Regions from separate parts of the Homo sapiens genome. Here region 1 is linked to region 2. The links come from fine-mapping of genetic effects on gene expression. A gene starts in region 2. The other region holds a variant in brackets. All regions are shown on one strand. Distances are between the middles of the regions. Region 1 overlaps LINC02207 (long intergenic non-protein coding RNA 2207). Region 2 holds the start of LINC02207 (long intergenic non-protein coding RNA 2207).

Region 1 (4,405 bases), 16 kb after region 2:
AAGAGAGAACTCAAGAATCACCTGGCTGTTAGGTATTTGTGCTCCAGGTTGGTTGAGAGGTGAGACAGAGAGGGAGAGGGAAAAGGGAAGGAGGGAGAAAGAAGGGAGAGAGGAAATGGGAGAGAGTGAGGGAGAGATGGTGACTGAAATTAGACAGAGATGGAGGATCGTGTTATCTTGTTACCTTTCTTTTATCACTGACTATTCTACCAAACACAAGGCATATTAAAAACTATCTCCACTCTGTACAGTCTCATTCCACACTTCTTTCCCAATTCTCAGCAGTTGAACTTGCCTCCTACTTTAGATTAAAAGTGGAAGCTGTTAGATTGGAAGTATCGATCCTAAACCTACACACACATCCACCTACACATAACACATTCCATCTTCTCTCTCCCTATTACACTGGCAGAGCCATTTCTCCTCCTATCTAAAGTCATCTTTTCCTTCTGGCCCTTGAATTCTCCCATCCTCCACATCCATGCACTGTCAGGATCTCTCTAGTACATTTCTCTCATTCTCCCTCATTTGGATCTACTCCATTGGCCTTTGTCATTGTTTGTTTGCCTTTAAAAACAACATTTTATTAGAGCTCATAATTTTATGGTCAGGAATTCTGTGGTCAGAAATTCAAGCTCCTTTTGGTTGGCCAAGTCTTCTTTTCCACCTCTTTTGACTAAGGTCACTCCATGGAATTCAGCGGGCAGATGGTCAGGCTGGGAGGTCTGCCATGGCTCTGCTCACATGGCTGATGTCTTAATGGGGATGGCCTCAGCTGGGGTCACTGGCCACGGTACCTACAGATGGCCTCTCAAGCATGGTGGCACCTGGGTAGCCCTGCTTCTATTTAATTTTTTTTATTTTTATGATTTGTATCAATACATAATATTTGTACATATTATGGGGTACATGCAGTGTTTTGATACATGCATACAATGTGTAATGATCAATTGGAGTATTTAGGATAGCCATCACCTCAAACATTTACCATTTCTTTGTTAAGAACATTTCAAGTCTTCTCTTCTAGCTATTTTAAAATATAAGATATGTTGTTAATTAGAGTCACCCTACTGTGCTATTGAACACTAGAACTATCCCTTCCATCAAATTGTATTTTTGTACCCATTAACAAACCTTGCTTCATCCCTCTCACCACATCCATCTCTCCTACCACAGCCTCTGGTAACTATCATTTTCCTCTCTACCTCCATGAGATCAACTTTTTAGCTCCTACATTATGAGTAAGGACATGTAATATTTGTCTTTCTGTGCCTGGCTTATTTCACTTAACATAGTGACCTCCAGTTCCATCTATGTTGCTGCAAATAAGAAGATTTCATCTTTTTAATGGATGAATTGTATTCCATTGTGCGTACGACTCACATTTTCTTTATCTATTCATCCATGGATGGACACAGGCTGATTCCCTATCTTGACTATTGTGAATAGTGCTGCAATAAACAAGGAAGTGCAGGCATCCCTGTGATGTACTGATTTCCTTTCCTTTGGATCAATTCCCAGTGATGGGATTACTGGACTGTGTGGTAGTTCTATTTTTTCATTTCTTGAAGAAACTCTATATGGTTTTCCAATGGCTGTACTGATTTACATTACACAACAGTGTACAAGAGTTCCCTTTTCTCTGCATCCTTGCCAGCATTTGTTATTTTTGTCCATTGGCTTTTAAGTATTCTTAAATCTCTCCTTAAAAAAAAAAAAAAAAAAAGAAAAGAAATGAAATCTCACTATTCTACCAAGCCTTCACACCTCTGTTTCTTCTTTCATTCACAGTCAAATATCTTGAAAGAGCTACTTATTCTTGCTAATTTCATTTCTGTATCTCCCACTCAATCCTCAAGACCTTCTGATCTGACTTTGCTCCCTTCTTGCCCTTATCACGCCACTGAAACAGCTCTTGGTAAGGCCATCAAAACCTTCATTTACATGATCTCTGTCTGATTGATACTTTTTATTCCTAACTTGAATATACTCACTAGAATTTGACATCCCTGCTCACTTTCTCTCTTTGGTTTCTGGTTTCCGTGACTTAACACTCCTGGTTTTCCTCCTAAATTAGTAATTGCTCCTCCTCAATGTCGTTAGAAAATTTGCCGTCTTCTACACAGCCACCAAATGCTGTTCAAAACACGGCCTGTGCCCTCTTCTCTCTGCTCTCTCACCTCTCAGTTAGCCAACCTGGAGCACAGAAACCTAACACCCAGATGATTCT[T/A]GAGTTCTCTCTTTTTCAACTGTGGCACTACCGATGTTGTGGAATGGACAATTTCTTGTTATGAAGTGGGGTTCATTATGGTAGCTGTCCTGTGTACTGCAGGTTGTTTAGCAGAATCCCTGACCTCTATCTGATAGAGGCACTCCCCTCTCACCCCTCCAAGTTGTGACAACAAAAAAATATCTACACACATCATCAAATGTTCCGTGGGACATTTGAATCACCCTTAGTTAAGAACAACTGTTCCGCTCATTTTAGGTGAGCTCATTTACACTCATGGCTTTATTTTCCCCTGTCATACAAATAATTAATAAATAACATCTCCATCACTGAAACCTTGTAGAGGCACCAGATGCATGTAAACATTTTCCCTCTTGATGCATTAATCTTAGAAGACTCAAAAGCATTTCAAACTGAATATGGCCAAGAATAAATTTGTAATCTTCCTCCCCTTCCCTAAAACCTAGTACTGTTGTAGTGTCCTTTTTCTCAGTGGGTAGATTTACCATCCATCCACTTATACAAGCTGTCAACTGAGAGTCCATCTCCAACCCCCCCTTTCTAATGCTGCAAATCAAACCATCATTGAGTTTTACTTTTTAGTTTTGAGATATAAAAGTTTCCTTAAACATTAGAGTAAAAGTTATATTTATAAAGGGAAACTGATACATTTAACTTCATAAAAAATAAAAACTTTTAAGATGAAAACACAGCAAAAATAACTAAAAATGATATAATTTATATGAAATAAATAACTAACAGATAAATCACGAAAAGACAAATGACCAAATAGAAAAGAAGGCAAAGGTCAGGAGTAGGCATTTCTTAAAGGAGCATCATGAATGGTGATGAACACACACACAAAAAATGTTCATTCTTATTAGTAATCAGAGAAATAGAAAAGAAAATCATATATAAATAAAACATTATTGTTTGATTTGCATTTGGAATTATTCCCATCCCAATTTATCTTCCTTTGCTCTTTATCTCTTCCATCAACCCATGTCTTTTAACAGGATTACTTTTTTTAATGTCAAAGCCTCCTGTCTTAATTGTCTAGTACAGTCTGCTGCAGTCTTGTATTATTGTTTGTCTGAAAATGTCTTTGTTTCAACTTCATTTTTAAGCTGCATTTTCCTAGATCTAGTAATTTAGCAATTATTTTCTTTTGTTTCCTTGGAAATGTCATTCCATTGTTTTCCAGCTATTGTTGCTTTTGAGACAGCAGTTGTAATTCTATGGTTTCAATAAAAGTAATGTCTTTTTAAAAAAATTTTCTGCTGCTTTTAAGATTTTCTCTTTGACTTGATATTCAGCAGTTTCACTCTGATGTATTTAGCTGAATATCTATTTTTATTTATCCTGTTGGGTACCACTGAGTTTCTTGAATCTGTAGGTTGAAGCTTTTGCCTTGTTAAGGAAAACTCTGAGCTGTTATCTCTTCAAATATTGCCTCATTTTTAACTTTCTGTTCTTCTGGGACCACAATTTTTCAAGTAAAGGCTAGATCTCATGGAATCTACTATATCTTTTCATACTATTCTAATTTTTCCACCTTTGTGTCCTTTTTATGCTATATTCTAGATGATTTCTTCTGAGTTATCTTCTAGTTTAAAATTTTCCTTATGGCTATATGTAATCTAATGTAAAACCTACTCTTTGAGTAATTGATTTTGATTATTGTACCTTAGGCTTAGAAGTTTAGTTTCATTCTTTAGTTTATAATATGCTATATTATATTTTATCATTTTTTGTTTGCTGTTACATTTTCAAGCTTACCTTTGTTTCTCTGCACATAGTACAATCACTTATTTTAAAGACTGATCACACAAAATTTAAATATTTTGTGGGTCAGCTTCTCTTTTTTGTTGGCTCTTGCTCATGATGTCTTTCGTTTCTCTGTTACCTGGAAATCTTTAACTCTATATAGTTATTTGTAGAAATAATTTGAATATCTTTAAATAAATACCTTACTTAAGGGAAGATTTGGATTTGCTTCTGAGAAACTCGTAGGGAAGTACTAACTCAGATAGATCTTAAAACAAATTCAAGGCTGGAGGATCACTGGGAGATCTACAGATGAAACTTGGTTACAATTCCTCCTAAGGACTGGGCCTCTTCTCATTCATTCTTATCCTGACTACATTGTGTTGAATCTTCCTATTGTTCAATTTC
Region 2 (4,405 bases):
CTCTATGTCTGATCCTAGGCACCTTGACTGTTGCCTGCAGTATTGCACCAGACTCTTAATTTGGATTCCTGCTTAGGACCTTGTGTCACTACAGGCTATTCTTAAGGCAGCAGCCCCAGTGGTCCTCTTGAAATCTAAGCCAGAGTCAGTTCATGTCACTGCCCATTACAAAACTTTCCAGTGTTCCCATTTTAATTACAGCAAAAGATGTGGTCCATACAATGGCCCACAAATCCCTACATAGTCTGGCCCATTGACCTCTCTGTTTTATCTCCCAGGACTCTCTCCAATTGTCGCTTGGCTCCAGACATGGTGGCACCCTCTCCCCGCCTCCAACATGCAAGGAAATTCTTGCCTCAGGCCTTTGAAATAGCTGTTGCTTTAGCCTGGAATGTTTTTCCCTACCTATCTGTATAGTGAACTCTGTTACCTTCTGTAAGTCTTTGTTCAAATGTCACATTGACCACCATATTTGAATCGCCACCTACTTCAGCACTCCTATTCTTCCTTATCCAGCTCCACTTTTTCTTTATTCCCTCACAGCACTTACCACCTTCTCCCATAGTAAAATAATTTACTCGATTATTAAGTATATTGTCCTGTTGTCCTCTGCTGAAATGTAGACTCCATGGTAGCAGGCGTTTGGGTTTCATTTCCTGATGGATTCCAACTATCTTAGAGACTGGCTGAACATGGTATAGATTCAATAAATATTCATCAATGAAAGAATAAGTGGCCAAACTGATAGTGAAAATGGGTTAAATTCTATAAATACGTTAAAGATATAAGGGGCTGCAGTAGATACCTGCTGAGATAGAGAGGGTGATAAAGAGAGGGAGAGGAGGAGAAAGTAACTCCTGTTACATGGCTGAAGGTATTACTCTTCAAAGCATTGAATGCGAGGAAAAATACACTCAAGTTAGAAAAGAAAAAGAGCACTATTTACATGATCAATGTGTTTACTTTGAGAATAGGAGGCATTCGGTAGAAGATTGCTGAAAGTCTTCAAATTATGTTATTGATAAGGCTCTAGGCTTATTAATCACAAATGGACCTCTGCCATAACTTCCACCTTCTGAATTATTTATATATGTGTCCTTGGATGTCAAATAAACCTATGGTAGTAACTTTTTAAAATATTTCCTAAGGCAAAACATTACTAAGCATCTTTTTTTTTTTTTTTTTATCAAGGCCTGAGATTGAAGTTAGAAAATAAAGTTTAAAAATAGATATTTGAAAAGAATTGCATTTTTGTAATGACATTTTAAAGCACAGAAAAGCTGTGAATACTTTGTTTCAATCAGACCAAATTCACTTTTATAACAAATAAACTGAAAATTCATTAGGTAAAATCTTTCCAGGCATCCAGGCCTTGGGATGTTTCTCTCCCTTAGTTTCATTTCACTGGAAGGAATTCTGGCAGGCTCAGAAATCATATGAACTAACCAGGGGAGGGATGGAATCAGCCTTCATTGCCTGGTGGTTTCTCTCTGTGTGTATTGTGACATGCACACACGTGCAAATAGAGAAAACCTCCATTTAATTCCTTAAGCAATTGTAACAGGCAGGCATCATTTTCATTTAAGCATGAAGATTGGGACTCAAAGATTTGCATAACTTGGGGAAGGTCACACCGTATGAAGGAAACATATTCAAGCCCAGCCCAAACTTCAGTTCTCCCACAGCCAGCTGCCTCTCACATGAGGTCAAATTACCTGACATACATAGAGTGAGTTTGGAAACTTAATAAAAACTCTCCTCCTCTCAAATGTTTCCTCTACCTAAGTCCCTGGCGTTTGGCTCTGAACAAGTCCTTTGAGGGTAAGAGGTACTGATATTAGGAATACTTTCTAAGACACCACGCCAGTGCTTCCATTGTTAGCTTACAGTGCACACACATTCACGGAGTTTATCAGACTCCGTCCAGCCTGGGATACTCTGAGCCTCTAAGAGCCCAGGGAACTCAGACGGCAAAGTTGGAGTAGGAGACCAAATCACCCATCCTCATTCGTCATGCTGATTACTTTGCCTGCAGCTAAACCTGTCTTTAATTTTAAAATTAAATATTTTTAAAAAGTGTTTCTTCCTGTGGAATTGTGTTTTAGAAATTCTGATTTTCTTTTCCAATTTCCCTTGGAGATCAAATTTGAAGAAAATATTATTGAATACCTACATGATAATTTGCTACAGGTAATGTACAAAAGAGAATATAATGACATAAATATATTTGTGTTTATATTGTCATAAAACTCACCTTTCAGTTCTATTTAGTAAAAGCTTACCCTGTATATGGACCCATGCATGGATAGGACATGCTATCTGCTTTCTCATGAGGAGCAGAGGCACAGGTAACTTTGAGGCAGGGAGGTTGTGGTTATGCAAAGAAAGATGATAAAGAAGAAATGGGAGAGCTAGAAGACAAACAGCCATACGTGGTATGTGATAAAAAAGCTAAGTGAGCACATGGACAGAGTGCTAAAGCTCTAAGAGAGAGGAAATCTTTTTATTTCATGGTAGTAAAGCATTTACCACCTCATAATAGTTTTGTGACCTTATGAAAAAGGCTCGGGCTCTCTCAGCTCTGGTTTCCCCAGCTGTAAAATTGCAATGATAACAGCTTACCTCTGAGGATAGTTGTGAAGGTGAGGTGGTGAGCTAAAGAGCTAAGGAATCAATTAGTGGCTTTTATTATCATCATTATTGTTATTCAATGAGGAGATGATATTTGAGATAAGCCTTCCTAGAAAGAATATTTGAGGAAGTTTAGGAGAATGGGAAAGAGAACATCTATGTGGGTATGGGATGGTGAGGGGTGGAAAAAAATGGTGAACAGGTGGCATGTGCATTGTATGATTGGGAAAGGAGAGACGGGAAAGGAGCTGTCTGATTATGTCCTGGTTCCTGATGCCGGCTAGTGTGTGGTTAGGAGGGGATAAGAGGACAGGGCTAGTTTGGGGGCAATAGTTATATTATTTCTCATATGGCTTCTCAATTAACTTAGGATATTCTTCCTAAAGTGTTATCTCTGTCAGGAAAAATTGTGGAAAGACTTTGAAATGGATAAAATAATTACTAGGTGTCCTCTTTAGCTGCCTTTCCATTTTACCTAATTCTATAGGGGTCTGCACTTCTTTTGAACCATTTTATAAATCTGTAATGTGTAGAAAGCTTATGTGAATGCAAATGACTTTTTCCTAGGAATGCAAATAAACTTTGTCCAGTAGAATCAAATGTATTATTGCCCAGTAACTATTGACATCTTCTGTGTTTGTTTATTTCAGCATTTCTGATTGCACGGATGTGTGTGTTGTTTGAATCCTCCCTCATACTGATCGTAACATCTTACTGGTTCACTCATTACTTAAAGAAAATCTTTACATACATTCATTTTATATTTGTTAAGAGTCATATTTTATTGGGAGGTCGAGGCGGGAGGATCACGAGGTCAGGAGATAGAGACAATTCTGGCCAACACGGTGAAACCCCGTCTGTACTAAAAATACAAAAATTAGCTGGGCGTGGTGGCATGTGTCTGTAATCTCAGCTACTTGGGAGGCTGAGGCAGGAGAATTGCTTGAACCAGGGAGTCGGAGTTTGCAGTGAGCCGAGATCACGCCACTGCACTCCAACCTGGTCCTGGTGCCACTGCACTCCAGCCTGGCAACAGGGCCAGACTCTGTCTCAGAAAAAAAAAAAAAGAGTCATATTTTAGTTCATTATTTAATACCTCAGGGCATTTTGCTGAGCATAATTCCTTTCTGGAAGGTCACATGCATTCTGGCAGGGTGTGTCAAGAGGGGTGAAGAGGGGAATAGATGAGAGAAATAGTCTATTATACTAGCAGTCCCTATTGCCAAATCTTGCCAAATTGTCTTACCACCATTCCCACCCCCAAGTTGAAAAAAATAAGAGTTTTGAATTAAGATCTAGAGCTTTCTAATTTTTTTTCTTAAAGCGGGGTCTGCAGAAGAACAACACCATATATGCTGGGAACTTGTTGAAAAGGCAGAATCTTAAGATTCATTCCAGACATACTATATTGTAATCTTTACTTTAATGACATCCTCATGTGATTTGCACCCACTAAAGTTTAAAAAGTGCTGATCTAGAACAAAACAGTGAGACCCTGCAGCTCTCAGTTCACCACCTCTCTGCTTCCTCGTGCCTGGCTGAGACAGAGGTTCAGAGTCCATGCAGTGGCAATAAGAAAAGCCACGAGCCATGAGAGCTTAATTTTTTCTTTTATTAAATAAAGGAATCAGCATAATTGTAAGTCTCCAAAGTTTGAAACAGTTCAAGTTGAATGAGCGTAGAGACAAAAGATAATGGGATATATATATATATATATCCATATATATATATATTATTCTAGCTTAATGATGGGGATACATTCTGAGAAGTGCAT

Evidence for each region. PIP is the estimated chance that this variant, and not a neighbour inherited with it, causes the effect.
Region 1: its variant is the best candidate, but not a certain one, in a credible set for the expression of LINC02207 in whole blood (TOPMed, PIP 0.77).

The regions. Positions count from the first base shown.
Region 1 is chr15:93,870,044-93,874,448 of GRCh38, forward strand. The region is part of intron 3 of LINC02207 (long intergenic non-protein coding RNA 2207); the gene reads left to right. Among named protein-coding and RNA genes, the nearest start is that of LINC02207, 16 kb to the left of the region's middle. The variant T/A (reference allele first, on the strand shown) is at 2,231.
Region 2 is chr15:93,853,955-93,858,359 of GRCh38, forward strand. LINC02207 (long intergenic non-protein coding RNA 2207) reads left to right here and starts at 2,606. Exons shown (of 4, transcript NR_120321.1): 1 at 2,606-2,642.